Homo sapiens: one gene and its partners. The protein of the gene in region 1 interacts with the protein of each later gene in a biochemical or structural test. Each region holds a gene or a part of one and is shown on either strand. Other genes may lie near its edges.

What was found.
Region 2: the proteins of SLC8A1 (region 1) and S100A12 interact in a biophysical measurement, tested with the Homo sapiens proteins (one large-scale study listed by IntAct).
Region 3: the proteins of SLC8A1 (region 1) and S100A13 interact in a biophysical measurement, tested with the Homo sapiens proteins (one large-scale study listed by IntAct).

The regions. Positions count from the first base shown.
Region 1 is NC_000002.12:40,449,272-40,453,531, reverse strand, and holds the start of SLC8A1 (sodium/calcium exchanger 1 isoform A precursor), read left to right. Parts: upstream 1-1,441; 5' UTR 1,442-1,628; intron 1,629-1,847; exon of another isoform or gene 1,848-2,072; intron 2,073-4,260. UniProt on the Homo sapiens protein: Mediates the exchange of one Ca(2+) ion against three to four Na(+) ions across the cell membrane, and thereby contributes to the regulation of cytoplasmic Ca(2+) levels and Ca(2+)-dependent cellular processes.
Region 2 is NC_000001.11:153,373,141-153,377,080, forward strand, and holds S100A12 (protein S100-A12), read right to left. Parts: upstream 2,482-3,940; 5' UTR 2,412-2,481; intron 1,473-2,411; 5' UTR 1,453-1,472; coding exon 1,315-1,452; intron 828-1,314; coding exon 687-827; 3' UTR 571-686; downstream 1-570. UniProt on the Homo sapiens protein: S100A12 is a calcium-, zinc- and copper-binding protein which plays a prominent role in the regulation of inflammatory processes and immune response.
Region 3 is NC_000001.11:153,618,186-153,621,436, forward strand, and holds the end of S100A13 (protein S100-A13), read right to left. Parts: intron 854-3,251; coding exon 710-853; 3' UTR 614-709; downstream 1-613. UniProt on the Homo sapiens protein: Plays a role in the export of proteins that lack a signal peptide and are secreted by an alternative pathway. Binds two calcium ions per subunit. Binds one copper ion. Binding of one copper ion does not interfere with calcium binding.

The DNA of each region.
Region 1 (4,260 bases):
AGAGCCACTGGCACAGGGGCAGAAGAGGCTATTTCTTCCATTCCGCCCCCTCTTTGTTGCGGAGGCAAACTGAGGTTCCTGGAGTCAGAATCTATCAGTCGTGGTGACTGCCCTGGTTGCACTGTAAGTATGGGGGGACGTCTCCACGAAAAAAAACTAACTTTCTGCCTTGTGCTCTGCAGGTCCCTCCTTCTCCCACCTTCCCCAAGTAGCTGCTCCTGACCCCCCCACACACCTTGGCAAACGACACCAGTGGCCGATAGCAACTGGTGTTTTAAAAATACTAATTTGGAGCCCCATTTGAGACCTACAACGGGAGAGTCTGCATCAGATTCGGCCTCAGATTCTACAGCATCTGACTACATTCCCAGGTGTGTGTGATGCGCAGCCAGGTTTGGAAGCTAGTGAACTCCACAGTAGGTCTAGCCTTTCACCACGTGAAGTCATTAAGGGTTTGTAAGAATGAATGAGCTGTCAAGAGAGGAAAGGCCTGGTGCAGTGTTCCTTTATTAATTATGAGGAAAGTGATTTATTGGCAATGATAATGCTTCTCTTGGAAAGGGCAAAGAATGGTTCGTCGATTGCTGCATTAGGTTTTTTCCCACTCAACCTTAATGCTCGGCTTTTACTCCTCACTGTAGTTTAAAACCAGCACGCCTTTCACACGAAACAGACTCTGGGTCTTTATTCCCAGGTGAAACGCATCTTTGAGGGAAATACCAACACAGAGACTCTGTCCCAGTTCTTGGCCGGGGGACACCCTCCCCCGAATATCTCTGTTTGCTTGTGTCAGCATCTAGTAGCCAACGTATAGTTGTGCATATCTGATACGTAGAAAAACACAGGGTGAGGATTAAAAAAAAAATCATTGATATATGCCCAGATCCTTTTGCTAAAAGAAAGCTTCCTTTAGCAGAAGGGCAGGAAGTGAGGGAAGAAAGATAGTTGGATTAACAAAGTCAGAGGTGAGAAACGGGTAGGCGAATTGGGGGTCAGGGTTCTGTCTGCGGAAGAGAAGAAGAGGGTTCAAAAGAAAAGTTGCAGCGCCTGTGTGCGCGTGTCATCGATGGGCTGGGTGCGAGAGACAGCGCTAGCGCGCGGCCACAACGCACTGCGGGGCCGAGAGCCGGCAGGAAATCGAAAAAGCTGCTCGCCGGCAGAGGCTGGGAGGCTGGAAGGGCTCCCCACCCGCTCGGTGCTCCAGAAACGCGCCGGCTTTGCCCCGACGCGATCGCCTGGGGAGCCCAAGGGGCGCGCAGGGGGCCCCGGGGCGCCCGGCAGCCGCGGGGCCGAGCGCGCGTGTGAGCGAGTGCGAGGCTGCGGGCGGCGGGCGGGCGAGTGTGCGCGGGAGGGAGGGGGAGCGCGCGCGCGCCCGGGCCCCGGCCCTCCCAGCCTCCCGGCCTCCGCGCCTGCCTCCCGCCCGCGCGCACCGCTGCCCGCTGCCGCGGCTCCCGCTCGCGCCGGCGCTGCACGGTAGTCAGCCCGCCGCCGCCGCCTGCTTTGTGCTTCCCACAGAAGATGGGAGCGACCTCTTCCTGATCGGGAGCTGTTTAAAAGGAGGGAGTGCGCCGTATTTTCTACTAGCGTGGAGGAACGGAGGAAGAATCCATTCACACTCCCCAAACCAGGTAGGATCTTATGATGGACAGGCAGAAGGCATTTAGTCAGAGACCAAGAACTATTTTCCATTTGCTGCTCATAAGGCTACACTTCCCTCTGCTTTGGCAAACGAGCGGCTTCTAAATTTGTGTGTGTGTGTGTGTGTGTGTGTGTGTGTGTGTGTGTGTGTGTGTGATGTGGTGTGTGCGCGCCTGCACATTTTTCTGGGTGTCCGCGCTTCCCAGAGTGAAATTGCTCGGGCTGGTGCGTCTGGGCGTGAGGGTGCCTGCCTGCCTGCCAGTGCAGGCTGCCGGAGGAAGAAAGGGCTGCTAAGGAGAGATGCTGCACCCTGCACCGCGCTGGGCTCTGAGGATTCAGGGCGCGAAGAGCTAAGTCCACCCCGAATGCAGAGCTGCTGGGGATCCAGGCGTCCCCACCCACTGGACTCTTCTCCGCGGACATCCCTCCTTCCGGTAATCCCTGGGGTCTTTCCCCAAGGCCACATTTCCGAGCCCCCTGTTTTCCAGCGGGCGTTGGGTGCTCATTCACCACGGACTGCGGAGAGGAGGGAGGTGTGGCGGGGCAGAGACAGACGAGGAAGAAATGTAGGGGGTAGCAGGGAGTGGGCTGCGGGGTCCACGTCTCTGGGCACTGTGCCGTGGTGTGCTTTGGGGATTCTGCACACACAGGCATCTTTCCCCAAGAGATTGGAAGGGAACTTTGCAGCTGCATTCTCTGCCTCTGGAGCTTTGCTGGCTCTTGGGGGAAATGGTCTGTGTTCTGAGATGTGAAGATATCCTTTTTGGCTCCTCCTTAATGAAGAAGAGGGCGGTCTTATAGCTGGACAGCCGGCCAAAGAAACCAAATCCGCCCAGGCGATGCTCTTGAAAATACAGTACGTGTGCATCCTTGATTCTTTAAATCCACCCCCTGCATCACCCCCGCCTCTTCTCTATCCCCCCCACCACCCCGTGGATTCTGTTGCTGTTTGATGAATGGCTTGGGCTGGCAATTTGTATTTCCCTCTCCAAAGTGGTAGTGGTTGAGTTGAGAACAGGGGTGATGAAATTTAACAAAGCATTTTTAGAAGAGAGCAATGTGCATGTTGTACGCAGTCATTGGAAAGTCATGCTTTGCGCTAGGTATCCTTTTGAAGCCCCCGAACCTGGCTCTCCTGAAGCCGCTCTCTCTCTCTCCTGCTAGTCAGCTACTAGTGGTTGTGAATATAACAATACAAACTTTGTCCTGCTGGAGGTGTAAAGACTAAAAAGAGAAAAAAAGGATATCAGTGGGAGGTGTAGTGGAAGAAGCTTTTTAAAAAATGACAGATGTGGTGAAGACAGTACAAGCGTCCTGATCATGGAGGAGCCTCTAGCTGAGTAGGTGGAGATTTCTGATCAGATCTGGTTAAAGGCATTGCTGGAGTATCTCCAGATATGAGCAGTTGAACATGCACAATCTGAGACTTGTGCGAAGATTTCCCAAGGGAAAGAGGGAGCCACCAGGAGAGAATTCTGAAAGTATACCTCTCTTTCCCATGCCCCCACCAGCGCGCGCGCGTGCACACACACACACACACACTCACATGCTTTCTCTTTCTCTCTCAAAGCTACTCCTGCAGCGAGTCAGAAAAAAAAAGGAAAATGAATCTAGATGTTTCATTCATTTCAAATAAGAAGACAAAGCCGGAAGAGGGATGATTGGTTTTAGGTTCCTCTTTCAAATCCTGTGTTACTTGGATTGAGCTCCCTGGGTTTGCTAAACTTGCTTAATTGGGAGGTTAGGCGGGTGTGAAAGCAGGAGGAAGGAAGGGAAAACTAGCTCCATCTTTGGGGCCTTGTGAGTGAGAAGGTGGGGGAGGACCAACTTATTTCATCAAGAGGCAAGATGTGTGCTCTTAAATGGTTTTCGTTTTACAAATTCTGCCTGCTTGAAGAATTCCATTTGGATCTCACGGCTCTTTAGCTAAGATTTCTCACACCTGCTATAAAAGAAGCCCTGATTTTGTCCCCTTAAAATGGTTGTTGTCTTTTTTTAAAAAAATGATTAATTCCTAGAAAAACAACAGCAACAAAAAGGACTGAACAGAGATAAACCATTATTTATTGTTGAGCTGTATAGGGCTACAAAGGATGTAAGAGTGTCATGATAATCAGACTTTACTGTCTTGAAAGCTTAACAGGGCTGAAGGAGGAGAGTAATGAACTAAAATATGAAGGCTTATTTTCTATGTATCTATCTACCTATGTCTTTACTTTAATATTATTATATAGTGGTTCCTACTGTAACGTTTCAGATTAAGCACATAGCCCTTTTGTTGACCAGGGGAAGAAAAGAGCATGGGAGTAACAGTGCTTTGACTCCCAATAAAATTACAAATGGAAAGTGAGGTATAGTCAGTAACATCTATAGGACTATTTGCAGGAATTATGTTAATTGCTCTGTTAAGCTTTCTGTGTTTTGAAAAAATAAAATATATTCCAAGAGAACTTCAGCATCTGTTAAAAAGCTATGTTTAACATGCTTTTGCCAGGCAAATATAGACTTTTATTTACTTGCAAAATAAACACATGATTCCTCTTAGTATTCAATCTATTTCTTTGACAAAATAAATGATGAGAAAAGCTGTGCAGATCCAAGGAAGTTGCAATTCCCCTTTAA
Region 2 (3,940 bases), on another chromosome or scaffold:
CATATATACACATATATATGTATATATCATATATATACATATATATATGTTTAAAGACATATATATATGTGTGTGTATATATATATGTGTTTAAAGACAGGATCTTTCTATGTTGCCCAGGCTGGAATGCAATAGCTATTCACAAGTGTAATCATAGCACACTACGGCCTCAAACTCTTGGACTCAAGCAATCCTCTCGCCCCAGCCTCCTGAGTACTGGAACTACAGGCACATGCCATGATGGCCAGCCATACAATATATTTTTATTTGCTTGTCTATTTATTTATTTTCTATTCTCTCCCAAATAATATGCAAGCTCTAAGAGGACAAGGACTTTGTGTCTTTGGTCTCTGATGCTCAGAGAATATTTGTTGAGTGAGTGAATGAATGAATGAATGGTGGACATTCAATAAATAATTCGATAAATAAATAATTGGTGATCAAATGAACAAATGGGGCAGGAGTTCTAAGGGATCTAAATCAGACTGCCAGAAGAGCAGGGGTAAGGTGTGATCAAGTTTGGGAACCGCAGGCATGGAAAGAAAAAAGTTCACAGACACTATTCAGAACTTTTCGTGAGTGTGTTTATTAACTCTTACTCCCCACGGGCAAGGCTGGGTTTTGGTGAGGGAAAGAAAAGACCCTCATTGAGGACATTGCTGGGTAAAAAGCCTTCAGAGAGCTACCTACTCTTTGTGGGTGTGGTAATGGGCAGCCTTCAGCGCAATGGCTACCAGGGATATGAATTCTTGAAAGTCGACCTGTTCATCTTGATTAGCATCCAGGCCTTGGAATATTTCATCAATGACAGCTTTATCTTTGATATTCTAGGAAAAAAGGACAACAGAGACCTTGAGTTCAGAACCTCCACACAAGACCCTTTCTTAGGCCTCTTATCCCTCAGAGCTCGGGTTGTGAAGGCCCAGGCACATTAACTCATTAGCCAACACTGTGTTGGAGAATCCAGTGTAACAAAACAGAGAACACAATGGTCATGAACCACCCTGGAATTAACAAGGCTTGACCTGGAAGGTACTCTTCTGCTCACTCATTCAACCCCTCCCGTGCCCTGCCTCTCTCCATTTTACATATGAGGAAACAGACTCAGAGAGAGGAACTGAGTAGAGCCTTAAGTGAGTTATTGAGAGAGGGAAGCAAAGGACCTCTCCCACAGCAGCGGGGAGAGCATCCTTTGGGAGCTCAAACTGGGGCCAACCCCACCCCAGTCCTTGTCCCACCATCCTCTGCCAGGCCTTGCCACTCCCCTCAGTGCAGGGTCATGGGCAAGTTTGCAGTGAGAGGGGCATCACCTACCTTGATGGTGTTTGCAAGCTCCTTTGTAAGCAGCTGCTTCAGCTCACCCTTAGAGAGGGTGTCAAAATGCCCCTTCCGAACTGAGTATTGGTGGAAGATATTGACAATTCCCTCCAGATGCTCTTCAAGTTTTGTCATCTTCCCAGCCTAATGTTAACCTTCAAGGAAACAAGGGAAGTCTAGAGGCAGTTTCTCCCCCACCCCTCAACCTCCACTCTCCCCTCTCTTTCTGAATCAAGGGCCTAAAGAAAACATAACATCCTCCATATCTATTTTGTGGTCTCTGCTCTGTTTGATCCATGGTGAACTTCTCATGTGTGGATAGGATGGGGAGGAGAAAACATATAATACTGTCTAACGTCTAAAAAAATCAGCCTCAGTTGCCCATGTTCCATACCACCTCATCCACCGGGGTGCATAACTTGGAGGGTATTGCTTACTCAAGGTCCCTTGGGAAGGGTTCTGTGATTGGCCAGGCTGTTTGCTTTCCTCAGGTGATGGCACTATGGCCACATATCCCCCACAAATGGTCCATAACCCACCCCTGCTTAGCCATTCTTTTTTTGTTGTTGTTGTTTTGGGTTTTTTGTTTGTTTGTTTGTTTGTTTTTGAGACGGAGTCTCACTCTGCCGCCCAGGCTGGAGTGCAGTAGGGCGATCTCGGCTCACTGCAAGTTCTGCCTCCCGGGTTCACGCCATTCTCCTGCCCCAGCCTCCCGAGTAGCTGGGACTACAGGCACCCGCCACCACGCCCGGCTAATTTTTTGTATTTTTTTAGTAGAGACGGGGTTTCACCATGTTAGCCAGGATGGTCTCGATCTCCTCACCTCATGATCCGCCCGCCTCGGCCTCCCAAAGTGCTGGGATTACAGGCGTGAGCCACCGTACCCGGCCTGCTTAGCCATTCTTAAATCATGGGACTGAGTCTACATAGCACAACAAGAGCTGATCTACTTGGGTCCAAAATGCAATATCACCCCAGAGGTGCTCAGGCAAGTGGAGGGTTGTGGTTTCCAACACCTTGTGATTTCAAAGTGGTCACCTGCAGTCACTACCCTGTGGACCACCTAAGAACCCATCCAAGGAAAATGCACTTACCCCTCAATGCACAGGAATGTGGAGCTACAGCAAAAAGCCAGCAGTGGTGAAGGGCACTGAGCCAAGGAAGGTTTTATAATCAGTTCAGGCTTCATCTTAGCCCTTGGGTGAAGAAATCTCTGATTCATCTTGAGGCAATTTATGTAAAGTACTCTGTTGCTCAATAGAAGCTTCAAACCTGTGGCTTAGGCTGCCACAGGAGCAGCCCAGATTGTACCCAGACTGAATTTTGCCCTCCTGCTCAGCCTGAAACAAAATCACCCCCACTCCACCCACCCGCACAGGGGTGCCCTGAACCTTTTTTAGCCCTGAGCCAGGGCCCAGGTTTCAGGTTTAGCTCTACTCCACTGCTCCCTAATAAAAGACTAGGAGAACAAACTTTACAGCCTGAGTGTCTTGTTTTAACAGATGAGGTTACCAGCTCTTCAGTTTTGGCAAATGGAATATCAACTTAAAGATCTTTATGCAGCTAAGGAGATAGGTAGGGAGACCTCCTCCTAAGTCGTTCTGGGATGCAAAGTTCATCACTGGAGCAGAGGATCAGTTTTCAAAATAGATTCCAAGGTTTTCAAAAAAGGAGAGAGCAATGCTACTATGCCTCCCCTTTGCTTTCCCAACTTTCTAACTTGGCTGTTACAAAGACCTAGAAAGCTGGAGTAGGGTAATCATTGTGTGTGAAGAAAGTTCACCATGCCTAGGTTACTTTACCATGTTCATGAGTTCAGTAAGACAGAACATTCACACGAGTTTTAGTAAAGCAACTTTATTACTCACAGAGAGGCAGCAAGGGACAACAGATGCCCAGGATTCATGGAGAGGTGGTCCTTCAAGATTCAGAAACCTGCCCAAAATGGATTAAGTCTCATCTGTACATTCCCCATGTCGCACCAAAGCTAAGGGACATCCAAAAGCACTCTGCCCTTGGTTTATGCCTAGAGGTCAATAAGATTGCTGAGCAATCAAGGCCATGCCAGAACCTGTGCTGCCATCTACCCCACAACACAGATATCCCCCTTAGCAAAGCTAGTTCATTTCATGTGCCCACCGACCTCTCTGGATCTGGAGGCAAAAGTCTGTCTCTCCGATCCATGTGTCACCTTGACTGACACAATCTCAGTGCAACATTGTTAAGCCATTGACAGTATTTGTTTCACTAGGCCCAGGAGGACACCACCAGAGCAGGATGATCAGGCTTGTGTAAATCAATGACAATGACCAAGGTGAATCTCAATCATTTTAGGAGGTTTATTTGGCCAAAGTTAAGGATGCGTGCCCAGAGGTAGGTCTACGTCTTTCTCCAAAGATGATTTTGAGGGCTTCAATATTTGAAGGAGAAACAGTGGATATTGGGGGAAGAGGAAGAAATATTTTTTAAATGTGTCAGTAGATAAGAGACAAGTGATTGCATCCTTTTGAGTCTTTGATCAATCTTTCACTGAATACACAATTTTCATGTGGGAGCGGAGTAGAGGAAATAGTCACTTATGCCTTCATCTGGCTCAGTGAATCTGCATTTTTACATAAGATAA
Region 3 (3,251 bases), on another chromosome or scaffold:
GGACAAACTCCAAGAAAAAAGAAGCAGAGCAGGACCATGCAGCTGAGCCCGAGTCACCTCTCCTGCCCCACATCTCTGCCCCTACTTTTCTTTTTTCTTTTTGTTTTGTTTTGTTTTTTGTTTTTGAGATGGAGTTTTGCTCCTATCGCCCAGGCTGGAGTGCAATGGTGCGATCTCGGCTCACTGCAAACTCCTCCTCCTGGGTTCAAGTGATTCTCCTGCCTCAGCCTCCTGAGTAGCTGGGATTACAGGCACCAGCCCAGCTAATTTTTGTATTTTTAATAGAGATGAGGTTTAGCCATGTTGGCCAAGCTGGTCTCGAACTCCTGACCTCAAGTGATCCACCCACCTCAGCCTCCCAAAGTGCTAGGATTACAGGCGTGAGCCACTGTGCCCAGCCCTCTGCCTCTACTTTTCATATATTCATTCAACCATTTATTGGGCACCTGCTCTGTACAAGACCTGGTGCTAGATGCTGCGGAATTCAAAGATGAATAACATTCCCTGTCCTCAAGGGGCTCATAATTTTCAGATCCATCCTCAGGTCAAGAGAGAGCTTTCCCACTCTCTGGTCTCAAGAAAAGAAATCAGGATGGGGTGTAAGTAAGAAACATTTGTGTTTCAAGGAGGAAGCTTTATTTGGGAAGAGTGCGGTTCTGCTCGGCCCTGATCAGCTCTGCCCTGCCCACCCCATCTCAGCCAGGCGGCTTTACTTCTTCCTGATCTTCAGGTCTTTCTTCTTCCTGATTTCCTTGGCCAGCTCCCCAATCAATCTCCAGTACTCATTGAACTTGAGCTCCGAGTCCTGATTCACATCCAAGCTCTTCATCTTCTCATCAAGAGAGCCCACATCCTGAGGAGACACCAAAGGGAAGGGTAGAGTTAGAAACTGGGGTTCTTGAGAAAGTAGGGAGGGAAGAACTGTCAGCTGCTATTCTCTCAAGGCCCTTCCCTCAGAGAGCAGTGGCACCTGCCCCTTCTCTAAAGAAGGAGGCTGCAGCCCCAAAACTGCACCGCCACGGGGTGCCTCTCCAAGGAGCACCAGCAGAGAAAGGTGGGGGGGCCTGAGTCCTAGTGCTTGCCGTTGTGTAAATACTTCCACGATGGCTGCTTACAAACCACAAACAGGTTGTCGCTGAATACAAAGCTGGAAAGAAATCCACACAATCTTCTCTCACCAGCACACCACTGCAGCTGCTGTGGGATCGGCCCAAGGAATGCCAGCATCTCAGGGAGATGCTGCAGGGTTGGACCCAGTCAGAGCCTTCTGGGGCCACCCTCCTCTTTCTCAGAAAGCTGGAGAAGCTCCCAGTACTTAGCTGCTCATTTGCACAACCCTTGTGTCTTTTCATTTATCCAGCTGGGTCACTAGATCAGGGGAATGGCAAGGGCATGGAGTATCTGGGTTTTTAGGGGCCCTTGACAGGGTATCTCTCATAGGCCTGTGAAATCAATGGCAACAGTAAACTGGATGTCCTGATCGAAGGACCTGTTGCCAGATAAACAAGCACAACCAAAAAGTTGACTGTTGAACAATAGTTCAACATCAAACCAGAGAAGGGTGCCTCAGGCAGGGTGTGAGGCTCAAGGTTTGAACCAACATTTGGATGCAGACAGAGAAGACTCACTGAATCTCTAAAGGGAACAAAGCTGATTCACAGAAGAACTAAAAAAGACTTTTTTTTAAGTTACAACCACGTTTAATTATAAAATACTATAAGCACTGCCAGTGGAAGGCAAGGATGGCTACTGTAACATTATATTGGGGGTGCATTCAATCAGTAAAGAGAAATAAATAAGTATTAAGAAAGAAGAAGCAGGAAGGGTGCGGTGGCTCACGCCTGTAATCTCAACGCTTTGGGAGGCTGAGGTGGGCGGATCACTTGAGGTCAGGAGTTTGAGACCAGCCTGGCCAACATGGTGAAACCCTGCCTCTACTAAAAATACAAAAATTAGCCAGATATGGTGGTGGGAGCCTGTAATCCCAGCTACTCGGTAGGCTGAGACAGGAGAATTGCTTGAACCTGGGAGGCGGAGGTTGTGGTGAGCAGAGATCGCGCCATTGCACTCCAGTCTGGGCTACAGAGTGGGACTCTGTCTCAAAAAAAGAAAAAAAAATACAAAAATTAGCTCGGTGTGATAGTGCACACCCGTAGTCCCAACTACTTGGGAGGCTGAATCAGAAGAATCGCTTGAGTGTGGGAGGCAGAGGCTGTAGTGAGCCGAGATCAAGCCACTGCCCTCCAGCCTGGGTGACAGAGTGAGACTATCTAAAAAAAAAAAAAAAAAGAGCTGTGACAGAAACAAAACAAAGGCCAAATACCAAATACCATACCAGTATCAGTGGGTTCCACAGCCCTGGATTCAACCAACCTAGAACCAAAAATATTTGAAGAAAAAAATCCACAAAGTTCCAAAAAGCAAAACTTAAATTTTGCCCCATGCTAAGTACTAAGTTGAATCCATGTGAATGAAGTGATGAGTAGGCACTGCATTATGTATTACAAGTAACCTAGAGTTACTTGTAATTTAAAGTATACAGGAGGATGTGCATAGGTTATATGCAAGTACTATCTGATTTTATATAAGGGATTTGAGGCCAGGCATGGTGGCTCACACCTGCAATCTCAGCACTTTGGGGAGGCCAAGGTGAGAGGATCGCTTGAGCCCAGGAGTTCAAGACCAGCCAGGGCAACATTGTGAGACACCCATCTCTACAAGAAAAGGACAAAAAAAGGTAATTGAGCATCCAAGGATTTTGGCATCCAAGGGGGTTCTGGGAACAATTCCCATGGATACAAAATGACAACTATATATTTCATATTATACCACAGGGATATTAAAAAAAACCTTGAATAAATAGAAAATGGAATAAACATATATTTTTCTTAAAGAGAAAGGCTCAATCAGCTAAAAATGTTGATTTTCCCTAAAATATATCTTTTATATGATCCCAATTAAACTATCTACAGGATTTTTTTTTTTTTTTGAGATGGAGTCTTACTCTGTCGCCCAGGCTGGCGTGCAGTAGTATGATCTCAGCTCACTGCAACCCCCACCTTCTGGGTTCAAGCAATTCTCCTGCCTCAGCCTCCCGAGGAGCTGGGATTATAGGCACCCACCACCACGCCTTGCTAATTTTTCTATTTTTAGTAGAGATGGGGTTTCACCATGTTTGCCAGGCTAGTCTCAAACTCCTGACCTCAGGTGATCCACCCACCTCAGCCTCCAAAAGGTCTGGGATTACAGGC